Regions from separate parts of the Homo sapiens genome. Here region 1 is linked to region 2. Evidence: fine-mapped expression QTL. Tissue or cell type: whole blood. Region 2 holds a variant in brackets; the other region holds the start of a gene. All regions are shown on one strand. Distances are between the middles of the regions.

Evidence for each region. PIP is the estimated chance that this variant, and not a neighbour inherited with it, causes the effect.
Region 1: it holds the start of NEDD9, and the variant in region 2 is fine-mapped to the expression of NEDD9 in whole blood (TOPMed, PIP above 0.99).

The regions. Positions count from the first base shown.
Region 1 is chr6:11,230,714-11,235,713 of GRCh38, reverse strand. NEDD9 (neural precursor cell expressed, developmentally down-regulated 9) reads left to right here and starts at 3,046. Exons shown (of 7, transcript NM_006403.4): 1 at 3,046-3,210. The coding sequence starts at 3,199. RefSeq lists silencers at 2,959-3,008, 3,489-3,538.
Region 2 is chr6:11,193,135-11,203,619 of GRCh38, reverse strand. It overlaps NEDD9 (neural precursor cell expressed, developmentally down-regulated 9), which reads left to right. Exons shown (of 7, transcript NM_006403.4): 3 at 9,928-10,029. Among named protein-coding and RNA genes, the nearest start is that of NEDD9, 34 kb to the left of the region's middle. RefSeq lists enhancers at 4,341-4,390, 6,730-7,595, 7,596-8,462. The variant G/A (reference allele first, on the strand shown) is at 5,355.

The sequences.
Region 1 (5,000 bases), 35 kb before region 2:
TAGATCTCTGAGTGGCTGGATCCCTGAAACTATTCAGATTTCTGCTTAAATATCATCTCCTCAGAGGAGCTTCCCTGACCACTTTATCTAAAATAATACACCTCCTGTCCCACCCTGGTCTGTTTTCCTCCAGCAATTTTCCCTGCTTAATTTTTCTTCATAGCATTTATCACTGCAAATCATATTATACATTCATTTAATTATTTTCCTCAACTCTCACTAGACTGTAAGCTCCATGAAGATGGGAACTTTGTCTGGGCTACTGCTGTATCCTCCCCTCCTAGAAAGGTACCTGGCACATGCTAGGTGCTCTAGTGATAACAGTTCAGTGAGAAAGCTGCCTTATGAAAGAATGGCACACAGAGAAGGGGTTCCTCCAACTTCTTCTGAATGCCTACCACACTTATCAACAGTAGTCTAATATTAATACTAGTTATAATTAATACAATAATTAAATAATAATCTATAGAATATAGCAATAATGTCATAAAATATTAACAAAATATCATAAATCTGATATTAATTAAAATAATAACTAATAACAACAGTAATAAGAACAAGCAACCATTTAAGGTCTTACAATGTAACAAGTACTATTAAATTCTATCCACATTATCTTATTTAATCCTCATTATGAGGCTAGCAGGTATTATTATTTTCTCTATTTCATACTGAAGGACATCAAAATTAAGAAGTTCAACTGGCCAGGCACAGTGGCCCACGCCTGTAATCCCAGCACTTTGGGAGACTGAAGCAGGTAGATCACCTGAGGTCAGGAGTTCGAGACCAGCCTGGCCAATCTGGTGAAACCCCGTCTCTACTAAAAATACAAAAAATTAGCCAGGTATGGTGGCAGACACATGTAATCCCAGCTACTCGGGAGGCTGAGGGAATTGCTTGAACCAGAGATGCGGGGATTGCAGTGAGCCGATATTGCACCACTGCACTCCAGCCTGGGCAACAAGAATGAAACTTTGTCTCAAAAAAAAAAAAAAAAAAAATTAAAAATGTTTTGAGGTTCCAGCACAGGTTTACCTGATTCCAACACCCTTGTGCTTTCCTTTAGGCAGCTAACTATATACTGACCCAAGCCTTCTTGAAATGAACTTCGGGTAGATTACATGTGTCTTACTTACCTTACAGGACAGAAACAGGAAAGCAGGAGGGCCACTAGCTAGAGAATGAAATTACAAAAAAACCCCAGCACAAACTTTAGGAAACTGTTTGAAAACATTAAAATAGGATGGGACAGCACTCACTTACTCAATGATATTCATCAAACAAAACAGAAAAAGGATTCAGCTTGACCACTTAGGAAGCCAAAGGAATGTTATCTAGATCTCTTGGAGGCCGCAAGACTCATCTTACAGATGGGAAGGGCTTTGAATCATTGTCCTCCTTTATCCAGGTAGACACCAAAAACAATTTCCTGCAAACTAACGACTCTCCGGTCAGTCTGCAGGATTCTTAAGGAGATCGTTACAATGCAATATGCTGCGTGCTTAATTTGTGTTCAGAAAGGCCTTGCACAATCACTCAGGCTTATTTTTGCTCTAAGGACAAATGAGGAGAAGCAAGGCCTAATACAGGCTGGAACAGGTATGTCAACCTCATTAGGATGGCCTGGGGGGTCATGTCCCTGGAATCAGTGCCACACTGAACTGCAAACTAACCTGCCAACCCTGTATCTGGAAACCACTTTTGTAGGACAGCTGTTCTCTCATTCCTTTTGCTTAGATCATAAAAGTAGAGTTTTCATCCATTGGGAATTTGTGTGTTAGACGCGAAGGGAATCAGATTCTGATCCAACTTGGTCAGGAAAAAAAAAAATAAGGGCTGATTTTTCCATCCAAGTCATGTAGTCTGGTTGGAGTGCATCCCACTCAGGGACAGCTATTGTCTGGATTCACCGAGTCTCAGTCTTGCCCGGGAAAAAGGAATTTTTCGCCTCACTGCTCTGTCCGTGAGAAGAGTTGCAGAAGGTGACCATTTCTGTTTTCTGGGTGATTCTCTTTCTCTATAGAAATCCTAAAATGGAACCTTTATAGAAATTATGTTCTGTGCTTCGCTGGAGAGAGACTGGTCTTTTTAACCAGGCTCATCAAACAGTGGGCATTTTCGTTCTCCTGGATAATAAGTGTTGGTGGGTTAATGGGTCATCCTCAGGACAGAGGTCAGAAGGAAAAACACTGCAGTGTTCAAAGCTGGAGCTAGAAATGCCAGCCGTCAAAGAACACAGAACTCAGTGGACGGTGATGATGTATAGGGCGTGCACTGGCCAACCCCATCCGAGAGGTCACATCTAACCTTTATCCTCAGCAAAGCCACTGAAGGTCGCTCAATATGTGTGACCCGCAACTCTGAGGCCCTGGTGAGAAGCTGTCCAGGAAAACGCTGGTGCGTGTGCTAGAGGGTTCCTTTTCACTAAGGGAGAATTGTCTTCCAGCTCCTTGCAGACTGACATCGCAAAGTACTTTGAACGTTGAAAAGAACAAAAAAAGCAAACAGTCACACACACACAAAAAGTAGGCGGGAGGAGGGGGAAAGAAAAAGGGACAGAGAGAGAGAGAGGTATCAGCAGGGGTGGTTAGTAAAAAGGGGCCCGGAGACAGAAAACCTTTTGTTCCCGGAGTTCGTTTCATGTAGAGATTGTGAGGTGAATGGCTTTGAAACGAAATGGGTTTATGAAGGAGTTGCTAGGTCACAGGAAGCGCGACTGTCAGACTGCTTTTGTGAATTCAGTTTCTTTAAAATTTGGGTTAATCTTAAAAAGAATGTATCTCCTTTTCCTGTTCTTTCTCTTTCTGTCTTCTTTTTTGGCGGGGGCGGGAGGACAGAGTAAGGTTCAGGACGGTTCCCCACTTTCTGTTTTATTTTCCACCGTCTGATAAAGCAAAAAGAAGCGATCACATTACAAGTTCTTTGTCAGTTTTTCAGAATTAGGGGTGGGCAGGGCCTGAGCATTACCTTGTCCCACTAGCCAATGGCGGGGCGGCATGCAAATGAGGTCCGCGATCAGCCTGCCTCAGTCACAACAGTGAGCTCAGAGACTTGAGGGAGGCGCTGCGACTGACAAGCGGCTCTGCCCGGGACCTTCTCGCTTTCATCTAGCGCTGCACTCAATGGAGGGGCGGGCACCGCAGTGCTTAATGCTGTCTTAACTAGTGTAGGAAAACGGCTCAACCCACCGCTGCCGAAATGAAGTATAAGGTAAGAGAGTGCCTTTTACAGGTTACCTTGCAAGCTGAAAGCTGTGCCTGCGGGTGTGTGCTTGTGTATGCGTGTTCCTTACTGTCAGTCCCTTGTGTGTCCCGGAGAGTTCTAAGATGAGTCTCGGTCACTGAGGTTGACATGCAAGCAGACAAGCAAGCAGAGACCCGGTCTTTGAGACCCACTCCAGGGGTTCACAGTACACCCGAGTCCATCTGCTCTGAAAGTTGCCGGGGAAATACCTCGGTGAGAAGTTAAGACTTGGAGCCGCTTCACAGCAGCCACTGGAGATCAGAGGGTGTCTGACTTGAATCGCGGCAGGCATTGGCTCAAGTCTCCTTGGCTTCCCCAGGCCTGGCTTCCACTGCCCTGGGGAACTGTAATGAGAGGAATGAGGACTGCATAGTCTGTCTCAGACTGGCTCTTAGTGCAAAGTTTTCCAGACTTTGCTTTAATCGTTTGGTCTCGGAAGGAGTATGCCATATGCACTTTTGGTGGGAGAAATTAAAAGCCCAGATTACACAGCTGAGGATGGAAAATTTTGACATCCTTATGTTATATTGGATGTAGGAATAAATAAGTATGAGCCATTTCTTGAAAACATTTTTATTGGAGTTTGAATGGGGTGAGAGTGCGAAGGCTCAGGCTGGCTCATTGTGCCTGAAAGCTTACAGAGTGTCATAGTCATAGTACTTCAGCAGCATTATTTTCCAATGCATTTTACACCATTGTTTGTGGATTTTTCTTGCCAAAAGGATTTTTGACTTGCTCCGTATATTCCCCCCTCCCCTTTTTCTTTTAAGTCACTCCCATCTAAGGAGGCAAGCAGCTTCCAGGGGACACAAAGAAAGCAGACTGCAATGAATTGGACATGAATTTTTCTTGAATGATGAATAGACATGAGTGCTAGTGCTACTATTTTATTTTATGCTATTTTAAACAAAAGTGTTATTATTAAGATGGATTTGGGCAAGGGTGCTAGGCTTGTGGATTGACAATTTATATTAACTGTACACTAGCTGGAAGCTACTTCGCTTTTTTTCTAAATTTTTCTGGTCCATCCTTTTTTGATGTAAGGTTGTAAATACTTGGTCTAACTGATAGCCACTGACTAGCCTCAGTAATAAAGCTTTTGTTCAAAAACTATGAATCTTATTCAAAAGCTTTAAGTCTAAATGTCAAAAGTCTTTATAGTAATGCCTACGTTACCACTGTCTGAAGACACAGGTATCAGCTATTTCTGTTTCATCAGCTTTCTATTATCTTCATCAGTAGGGAAGATCAGAGGAAAGGGTCATCCTGAAGACTATTAATATTTGACTTTAGGATGCAACCAGAAACAAATCCCTCTACTTGGCAGGAAAGTTATCTTCCTTAAAGTGGCTCACCCCATATTTCCTTATTTAGAACAATGATAGGACCAGATATTACTCAGCCTGGAGTGACTTTTTTGCTCCTCCTTTCCCTGTTGTTGAATAAGAACTGGCTTGCAGAAAAAAGAGAAAGTATGTTCATATGTCTATTATTGGAAAGTATAAATGGCTGAAATTAACATTGAGTGCTATAATCTAGAAAGTGACGAAAGCGACAAAGTCTCAAGTCACTTTTATTCAATGATCTCATCGTGGTTAGCTTTACTCTTTATGGAAAGAAAATCTAAAGGCAACTGATAAAGTGACTGACAGCGTAAACTGCGATTGGCATTCATGGAGAAACCTGCTTCTCCACTGGGCCTTACTGGTGTTGAACACCTTGCCAAATGATGTAAATACATGATTTTTATTACCTTG
Region 2 (10,485 bases):
TCTTGGATTTTGCAGACGTTTTAGGCCTGTTGTCTCTGGACACGACAACCACCTTCAGAGCTGGCACCGAGTTCTGCCTTGTGAGTGGTTTGCCCCATCAGCCACTGCATCCCTTCTTCCAACTAAACCTGAGCGTTCTCCTCTTTAGGAAGAAATGATACCAATCGGCATTTGGGTCCCAAAATTCTCATCTCTCACCTCCTCTTCACAGTCCCTTTCCCCTTAGGGCAGTCTGTGGGCATCTCTCTAAAATCCATTTCCCAATCTAGATGTAGCGCTCAGAGTCCTGTTGAATTTATTTGGACATCAAAAGAGCCACAATACTTGTGCTTTTTTATAGTTTTCTTTCAAAGAACATTTCAGTCCATGAGACAGAAAAAAAATGGCTTTGCTGTATCCAACTTGTCACAGGCTTGTATTTGGCATTGTTCTGAGAAAGACCTCAACCACTCGTGAAACCCAGACGTCATTTCCCGTCGTGTTCTTTCATGTTAAATGCTTCTAGCTGCTCGCTGGTGCTTGGTCACTCTATAACTAAATATTGCTTTAGCACTGGCTACACAAAGAGCTTCCTGAAAGCAGCAGGGGGGACATGCTAGGGGCTTAACAATAGGGGCACTGTTTCCATTGAGCGGGTTTGCTGCCCAACGCTGTGTCAAATGAAAGTGACCCAGGAGCACCACTGCTCCACTTCTGAGCTTCCACTTGTGACTTTTTCCTCACTGGGGAAAGAAGCTGGCTGTGATTTAGATGTGGCTAGCAAAAGGTTTAGTTCTGGCATAAAATCAGGCATCAGAACGACTTTGAAAGAAAGTAATTCACCTTCAAAAATACATGGGGAAAAAACTTCATGAGCACCAGAGAAGCATTTGGAAGAGTTAACCTTGGACATGGCTTACGAGGGTGTATTTTTAAGGCCAGACTCAGTTTTCATTATATTGTTGCTATGCAAGTAAATAAATGAGCTCACTGCTACACCCAAGCTGGGCAGAATGAATTTACAGAGAATTAATAAATCCAGGGTAGGCAACATGTGGCTTTTCTTCTGGTCATAGAGAAGCAACTAGTACTCTTGGATTTTAAGCAGGCAAACCTCTGTAGCTTTACAGTTTCTGAAAATTGGATCCCAGTTCTAATGGGCAGGCAGTGATAATGGTAATGTTTCTTTTCCTAAGGTTTTCTTTAAAGGGAAGGGATCAAATAGTTCATTTAAGACAAAGAGGTTATTATAAAGTCTAATAAATACTGTGGTAGCTCTGTTAATGCTTTTCAAGGGCATTTAAGTGAAAGAAGCCCTTTCCAACAGGCAGTTTTGGAAAGCTAAACACTCTTGTTAATTCATGAAACGCAAAGAGAGATAATATAAATAAATCAGGGGCTGGGGAGGAATTAGAGATAGACAGGAAGCAGTCAAATTTTACTTCCCACATATGCCAAGAAAAGTGCAAATACATGGCTGTTACTTAGTAAAACCTACTTTTAAATTCAGAGAATCGTAGGTACTATGAATGGTGAGGTTATAAATCTGTAATCATTACAGCACGGGGACACTTTTTAACTTCTCATCAATTACCCATTGTTATTTCCTGAGCACATCCTGGGTTACCTAGCTCCTGACTAGGCATTAGGGAAGGACACAAGAAGCTGACTCCACACATTAGTACTCTACTAAATTCATGGGTAAACTCCACTGGTCAATAATCAAGTCACTATCTCTATATTGGAGGCAAAGGATTGCACAATTCAGGCTATTTGTAATGTTGCTTTGGATTGTAGAGACTTAGACTCAGAGGAATCACGGGACATAGAATCTAGAACAGGTCTGTGTCCCATCATTCTCTTAAAAGAAAACCTTTCAAGTAATATTTCTTATTATCTTTTAAAATCTTGTTAAAATGACAAAATATATATATATTTGTAATTTTTAAAATTTTGATGCATACAAAGATAGACATAGATAGATAGATAATGTAGAAGTATAAATAATAATAAGTCACTAGAGCATGACTAACTAGTGAAGTTACCCAGTCTCCTCTCCATCCCATCTCTCTGTCTCCCATCCACTCTACCCAACTCTTCCTTTCAAAGAGTAGGATTTTTCTGCTTCGTTTTTTTACTGCTTTGTTCTTACTTAGGGTTGCTGGAAGCACATGGAAGGAGGGAAGTAGTCAAAACAAGACAGTGTTGTGAGGGGAGAGATGAGAAGTCATGATAAGTAGGTGGGTGGGTGACCCACAGGGCTGGCATCAGAAGGAAACATAGCAAAACATGATGGATATGAGGCTTGCTGTGGGGAGGGGGATTGGCCTTTGTGAGTGGCAGCCGTCTGCTCCCTTCCCGCTTCCCTTAGTGCTCCATTGAGCTAGCAGCATGCAGCTGAGAAGTTGAAGTTCTGACCACATGGCCTCTGCTGCCGCTGCTCTGCCCCATCCCAGGCACCTAGCCAGCTCTGCATTAAGGAGGTGAAGTGGATGCCCAAGGAAAGAAGTGCCCCCAAGGAGACTTGCTGAGACCTTGAACAAGTGACACAATGTGAGCAGAACTTGTCTTGACAGAAAATGCTTTGTCTCTAGGTGTTCCAGAGAGATGGGCAAGTGTCCTATTTCTTAGTGAGAGCCTCTAAACAAACCAGCTTGTGAACCTCCACTGAAAAGATCTCATCTGATGAGCATTTTAATAAAGTGTCCTGAGTTTGGAGGCTTGCCGTCTTTCTCTTGGATAAATATCTTCATCTCCTAGACTTGGAAAAACACATTTTCTCCTGGGGTTTCCCATTGGCGTGTCTTGAGCTGCTCTGGTGATAACCGTAATAATGCCAATACTGATACGAACAGCAGAAAACAGTAACCCCAAGAACTCTACAGATGATCATCAAGGACCACTGTCTCTTACCATTTGCTGCTTTGGTTTGAAATTCTCACTGCCTCGTAGATCTCATTTTGAGCACTATACATTCCTAAAGATTGATTTCTTTCTATCTGACTTAAATTTAGGAATGATTAAATCTTCATTTCTCCCATGATTTGATCCTAAAACATTTTGAAAGGAAACAGCCTTGAGATCTGTGATTACTAAGACATACATAACATTCTTATCACATTAGAAAGCAAGAATTGACTGTTGCTTGTCTTGTTCCTGTTGTCTTGTCCCCTGAATTCCTGTTTATCTTTGATTGTATGTGGGACATTGTATTTTCAGTACATTTGTAGAAATAATGTGAAGCCTATAAAGATGTTCTCTGCCTCCAGAGAGAATTTTGTTTCCTTCTGCCAGCCTCATAGGCAAGCATACATCTGATTCCATGCTTTGAGCTGTTCTGGCAACCCTGATGTCTTCAGCCTGTGCAAGGGTGGGTTTACTTCCAGTTAATCCTTATTTTGGATACAGTCCTTAGGGTTCCAACCCAAAGTCGGGGGTGGTTTGGGGTCCCTGCCTTGGTGAGCCCTATAGTCCAATGTTCCCCCTTACCCAAAGAAGCTGTAGAAAACCCAGCACAGCCTCCCAGGCACCAGTTTCAGATCAGCAAAAAATAGCAAATGCCCCCAGGCTTGAAAAGCAATCTCACCTCTATTAACTCTTCTCCCAAAGTTTGACCTAGTAATTCTTTATTATCCTTGAACTCTTGACACTATTAAGAAGATCTTTTCGGCTGGGCGCAGTGGCTCACGCCTGTAATCCCAGCACTTTCGGAGGCCGAGGCGGGCGGATCACGAGGTCAGGAGATCGAGATCGTCCTGGCTAACACGGTAAAACCCCGTCTCTACTAAAAATACAAAAAATTAGCTGGGCACGGTGGCGGGCGCAGTGGGCGGGTGCCTGTAGTCCCAGCTACTCGGAAGGCTGAGGCAGGAGAATGGCGTGAACTCAGGAGGCGGAGCTTGCGGTGAGCCGAGATCTCACCACTGCACTCCAGCCTGGGCGACAGAGTAAGACTCTGTCTCAAAAAAAAAAAAAAAAAAAAAAAAAAAAAAAAAAAAAAAAAGATCTTTCCTAGCTTTTCTTCATTTTTTTAAGTTGTCTTCAGCAAGATGGTTAATCTCAATTACCTAGTCCATGATTTCTGGAAGTCAAAGTCAAAAGGTAAAATCTATATAGCCTAGGTGACAATTACAATAACAATAACAATAGCTAAGGCTTATTATGGCTTTATGCCAGGTACTTTATGCACTTGATCTCATTTAATACTCATATAGCCTATGAGGGAAGTATAATTTCCATTTTACCTATGAGAAAACAGGCTTAGAATGGAACCTTTGTTCTCATAGCTTGTGAGTGGTAGAACCGGGATTTAGATCCAGCTCTGCCTGAGTCCAGCTTCTGTTTGTCAATTACTTCCCTCTTCAGACCTAATTCTTCCAATAAGCAACAGAAAAAGACCCAGTGGGGCCATGGCCTCTGGCACACAGCTTCTCATAAACGAGCCTATCACACATCCCCAGAACTAAAGCAATCGTATGTTCCTTCTGATGTTGAGGTAAAAAGCAGGGTTTGTTTTGGTTTCCCTTTTCCAAAACACTCCCCCACATGTTTCTGGCTTGTGGTTAAGAAGAACCCAGGTGTTCATGTCACATACGAGCTCAACTGGGGAAAAGGAAACCATCCAGCAGCCCTCCTTGCCTGCCAATAGTGGCTTCACCCAACTTGGGGTGCATTCTTCTACAGTTTCTGATTTCTCAACTTCACCTAACATTCCCTTGCCTTCTTGGATCCCTCTCTTGCCCAACACTACCATGCATGGCTGATAGGGCACTGTTCTGCCCCATATCCCATGGGTTCTACTTAACCCAGAGCTGGCTTACCTGGAAACCAAGCTTATTCTGTAGTGGCAGACCTCACGCCATCTTGCTTAATAGCCTTCAGTTTTCCTTTAGTTGATTAATGTATCACTCAATAGATTATGCAAGACCTACTCTGCTAGGCACTGTACTAGGCCCTGTGGTTTATATTTAAATGAAGAGGGAATGATCTCTGACTTTAAAATGCTGGAAGAAGAGATGAGATGCATCAAGACCGTCAAACCACAAGTGATAAGTGCTGTCAGAGATGTGTGGATCACTGGCTCAGGGAGTTCCAAGGATAGAGACATATTATCTGTTTGGGAAGGGCTTGGTGGGGGAAAGGCATTCAGCCGGGCCTTGAAAATCAATTAAAGTTTGAATATGAGGAAAGAAAGAAGAGCATCTCAGACAAGGACATGGCATGGATGAAGGCACAGAGGTATGGGCGTGCAGGGCATCTGTGGAAATGGACAGCTCAGTTCTCGCCGAGGGAGGGAGTTGGTGCAGAGCCTGGGGGCCCTGCCTTCAGAAGATTTCCAAGAGGAAGGAGGGCAAAAATACACAGATGAAGGCAAA[G/A]ACTGGCAGCCCGGAGGCCAAAGACGCGTTTAGTTTGGCCAAGACACTGTTTTTAAAATTTAAGTCAATTTTGAAAACCAGGTTTCACATAAAATTCCAAATTTCTGGCTTCTGAAAACGTGAAAGATCTGGCAACACAGGGCGCAATGTCTTCCCTCTTTCGGTAGAAGGAGTTCTGTCTCCCCGGCACCAAAGCCTGGCTTGTTTCTTCCCTACACCCTGCTTGCTCGGTCCGTGAGCATCTGAGTATAGGACCCTTGCTCTGCTATGGGTACCAGCTCAGGGAACACAGATGCAGAAACATCAGAAAGAGTCCCAAGGGCCTCTCATCCAACTTGCTGACTGTCATCATGCTGGTTCTCAGACCTCCCTATCTCTCTCTGCTATCCAAACACAGACCCTCCTCTTTAAAATTTCAGCATACATGGCTTTCAAAATTATGAGGCATGAAAGTGTCAAAAGCATCTCCAGAAACTCATGCCGCCAGGATCTGAGACTCAAAACAGTGTGGATCAAACACCATCAAAGTGTGGGGTGGGGCAATTCGAGTTTGTTTCCTTGTTTTTATGTAAGCAGATTAATTAGAGAACTAACATAACGCCAGTCTTTGGGCTTTTGATCCTATCCTGCCAGGACCCAGACTTGGAGATGTATTAAATGGATTCTTCCTTTTCTAAATGGAAGAATCTGCCCTTCTCGGCTTCATAGCTCTTCTCAAAGTCTCTGTCTTGGACCCTCCCGTTAGTTACTGAGAATGGTATACTAACATCTGAGAAAGGTTGGATTCCTCCTAGGGACAGAAAATCCACATATGGAAAGTGCAAATCCTGTGCCGGGTAATCACGAAAGCAGTTGCAGTAGCATTGGATCATAGAGCCCCAGGAGACCTCACAATTCAGCCCCCTTCCTGGCAACACTAATGAATTAAGAGGTCAGTTTGGTAATTCCAAAGGCTAAGCCTTTGTAACTATAAATAAATGCACAGAATGAAAGGAATGTAGAAAAAAAAAAAAGCAAACAGAGGGGGAAAGGAAATGAAAAACCTGACTTGATTTCATTGAGAAAATTAGTTTAAAAATGTCCTTTGTGTAGCAATTCCTTTAATGCCTCACCGAACAAATGCCTAGGAGAATTCTTCCAAACTTGAGGTCCCCTTAACCAGACCTTGGTGTGCGTCTTCAGCTGAAATTCAGCAGTTCTGGGAGGTGGAATGAGGAGAGATCGTTGGAAGGTTTTTGTGTACTTATGTCACGCAGCAAGAAAAAGCCTTAATGAACCACAAAACTGGAGACTTTGTAAGGTACAGCTCAGTCAGCACTTTTCCTCCGAGGAGAGGACACACAATTGGCATGAAAGTGACCCAAGCAACAGGTCGAGGCAGAGAATGTCCAAAAGTAGAAGACTTCGAGCTCCCTGATCTTCCACACGTCACAATGCGGATTGCTGCACTGGACTTGGCATTTAAATGGGACCAGCATTTTGCATCCTGGTCCCATTTAAATGCCATTTGTGGACCAACGTGAATTAGATGGTAATGTCAGGAAGGCTGGAATCGGTGGTGGCGGGCGGGGGGTGCTGTATTCGGTTGGCGTTTCCCCCCTGTGGTTTTCACCATCTGTTTCTTTGAATGCATAAACAAGGAAAATGACTGGTTTGGAATGCAGAGTTTTAAAAAACCAGAAGACCACAGGCATCCTCTAAATGAGAAAGAGAGAGCAAGTTGGGGTTCTGTGACATTTGTCAGGAAGTGAAATGTTAAATACCGGGAAGCATTAGCGCTTTCTGCCAGGGAAGATCCACAAAGGCAAGGAAACACTTTAGCGGTGAACCTGCCTTCCTTTTCTGAGGTCGTGCTATGTGTTTATATGTCACCTAGTGCTATTTTCAGACACCAACGCCACCCACTCTAGCTCCCAATCCCCTTCTGGGTTTTTTGTTTGTTTGTTTGTTTTGTTTTGTTTTGAGACAGAGTCTCTCTCTGTCACCCAGGCTGGAGTGCAGTGGAACGATCTTGGCTCACTGCAAGCTCCTCCTCCCAGGTTCACGCCATTCTCCTGCCTCAGCCTCCCAAGTAGCTGGGACTACAGGCGCCCACCACCACACCTGGCTAATTTTGTGTATTTTTAGTAGAGATGGGGTTTCACTGTGTTAGCCAGGATGGTCTCGATCTCCTGACCTCGTGATCCGCGATCCTTGCCCTCCCAAAGCGCTGGGATTACAAGCGTGAGCCACCACGCCCAGCCTGTTTGTTTGATTGTTTGTTTGTTTTTTGAGACGGAGTTTCACTCTTTTTGCCTAGGCTGGAGTGCAGTGGCAAGATCTCAGCCCACTGCAACCTCCGCCTCTCGAATTCAAGTGATTCTCCTGCCTCAGCCTCCCGAGTAGCTGGGATTACAGGCACATGTCACCACACCCGGCTAATTTTATATTTTTAGTAAAGACGGAGTTTCACCATGTTGGCCAGGCTGGTCTCCAACTCCTGACCTTAGGTGATTCTCCCGCCTTGGCCTCCCAAAGTGCTGGGATTACAGGCATGAGCCACTGCGCCCGACATGCCCGCTTCTGTTTTTTAAACGAAAGATGAACAGTTAAGCTGGACTTAGCCTTGGTTTTCCATTAGCATTATTGCTAAGTTGGCAACCTTGGATAAAATCCACTCTTGGAAACTTTTAAGCTGAACAAAAGCTGCACTATGAGCAGGTGCTATGATAAAGCCAAGACAGCGCTCTAAGTAGAGGGGCTGATGAAATAGACTAAGGGGAGATCTTCATTTCTCTCCTGGACAATAGCGAGTAAAAAAAAAAAAACAATCATATAAGGGCATTAGGAACACATTGTGTTTTTCTTTAGCAAAGGGCATCCTGCTTTGAAAAGGAAGGTTTGCTATGCACAATACAGTGGCCATTCTATAAAGTGGTTCCGTATGCTCCATGCCAACAGACCTCAAAGCAATAGGTTCCTTTTTTAAACCCAAGACAGTGGAGAGACTTGATGGAAATTTTGAGTGCATACTAATCTCTTTTACTTCGTTGCAAGAAACAATCAGTTGTAAGCACTAGGGATTAAAAGCCAAATTGAACTCAGGCATTTTGAGAGCGCCTGGGGAGAAGGCATTGGTGCATTTGGCTGAGTTCCACCCATTTCAGCATAAGATGGACGTGGAGCATTTTTCACATAGTTCTGTAGGCAGCCTGACGCCAGAGTTTTCACTTCAGAGAAAGGATAAAAGTTGACGGTTTCTTAGGGAACAACCAACTCTTCCTCATTTGCAATGTCTGTTCTCCTCAAAGATGTCGTGGGCAACGCTTGAGATGGGCACTCAATGACTCAAAGGGTGGGGGTTAGGCAGAAACAAGACCCTGGGCATTTAGAAGCCCTTGGACGATTACATATATTTCAAAATGAGTTAAGTTCAAATAATTTTTTGCTGGTGCTTAGCACACCAATGAAGTATGTAGATATGAAAACAGGAGGCTGCTAGGTAAGATTCATTTTATTGGCACTGGTTCCAGATGCCAGCATCGTGATGAACGCTATTTGACTTCTGATATCCCTTGACGTAGGTACTGTTGGGGATGTTTTCTTTCCTGGTGGAAATGGGAAAATGATTAGAGACCAGAGGTCAGGAGACCTGAATTCTGTTCCTGGTGCCTCCCTGACTCAGTATTTTGTTTGTTTGATACGTTAGAATGAAAGCTCCCAGAGGTTTCTAAGGACAGCACAGTTTGAGCATTGGCTTTGTAAAAGTACTCTGGTGACCTGTGGAATTACAGTTATAATCATCATAATAATGTCCAATGAAGAGGCATACTGAGGAAGGCATGAGAGGAATTTTAAGTGGCTAAACTCTATTTGCATTATTCATTTTACAAATTGTTTCAGAGCCTTAAAGCAAATTTCAGTATGCGGTACTTTAGATGCAAAATGCTCCTCTAGGACTTTCATAAGTTACACACAAGTATCCCTTAAAGTATATTTCAGAAATATGCTTGCAGTGCATCAACTCTATCTGATGAACTTTGAGATGATCACAATTAAGGGTGATAGAGATATTTTAGGGATTTTTTTTCTCATTGGGATTCAAGAGGGATTTAAAAGTTTACTAACCTGGGCCAGATGCAGTGGCTCACACCTGTAATCCCTGCACTTTTGGGGGCTGAGGTGGGTGGATCACCTGAGGTCAGGAGTTTGAGACCAGCCAACATGATGAAACCCTGTCTCTACTAAAAATACAAAAAATTAGCTGGGCATGGTGGCGTGCACCTGTAATCTCAACTACTCAGGAGGCTGAGGCAGGAAAATCACTTGAACCCGGGAGGCAGAGGTTGCTGTAAGCTGAGATTGTGCCACTGTACTCCAGCCTGGGGAGCAAGAGCAAAACTCCATTTCAAAAAAAAAAAAAAAAGTTTACTAACGTGGTGTCTACTTGTCTCCTTCCTGTTATGTCTTCTTTCTTTGGTTTCTTTCTATCTTTTTATGAGGGAGAGTTGAGGGATGAGTGCTTAGTTAGGAGGCAAGGAGATTCAAGGACTCAGGCTTGGAAATTTACACCTCTGTGCCTTCTCTCCCACAGGTGATAACCCCCGTGAGGACAGGCCATGGCTACGTATACGAGTACCCATCCAGATACCAAAAGGACGTCTATGATATCCCTCCTTCTCATACCACTCAAGGGGTGCGTACCAGAACATGGTCACAAGAGGAGAAGCGCTTCTAAGGGTAGCATTCCTTCAGGGCTGTAGAGAAAAGGGAGTTCACAAATTATGCATTAATATATGTCATATGAAGCTTTGTTTAGGTTGTCTACCCAGTAGCCACTTTAGCCAATGCTATTTAAATTATGTTTTCTGGATTTGCTTTATCAGGAAATCCTAGTATTTCACCCAAGAGAGCTTATGTTCTTCTACAATTTTGCTTCAGAAAGTAGATTTTTCTTTTTTCTTTTTTTTTTTTTTAAGACAGAATCTCACTTTGTTGCCCAGGCTGGAGTGCAGTGGCTCTATCTCAGCTCACTGCAACCTCCACCTCCCAGGCTCAAGCAACTCTCCTGCCCCTGCCTCAGCTTCCCAAGTAGCTGGGACTACAGGCACACACACCACCATACCTGACTAATTTTTGTATTTTGTAGGGA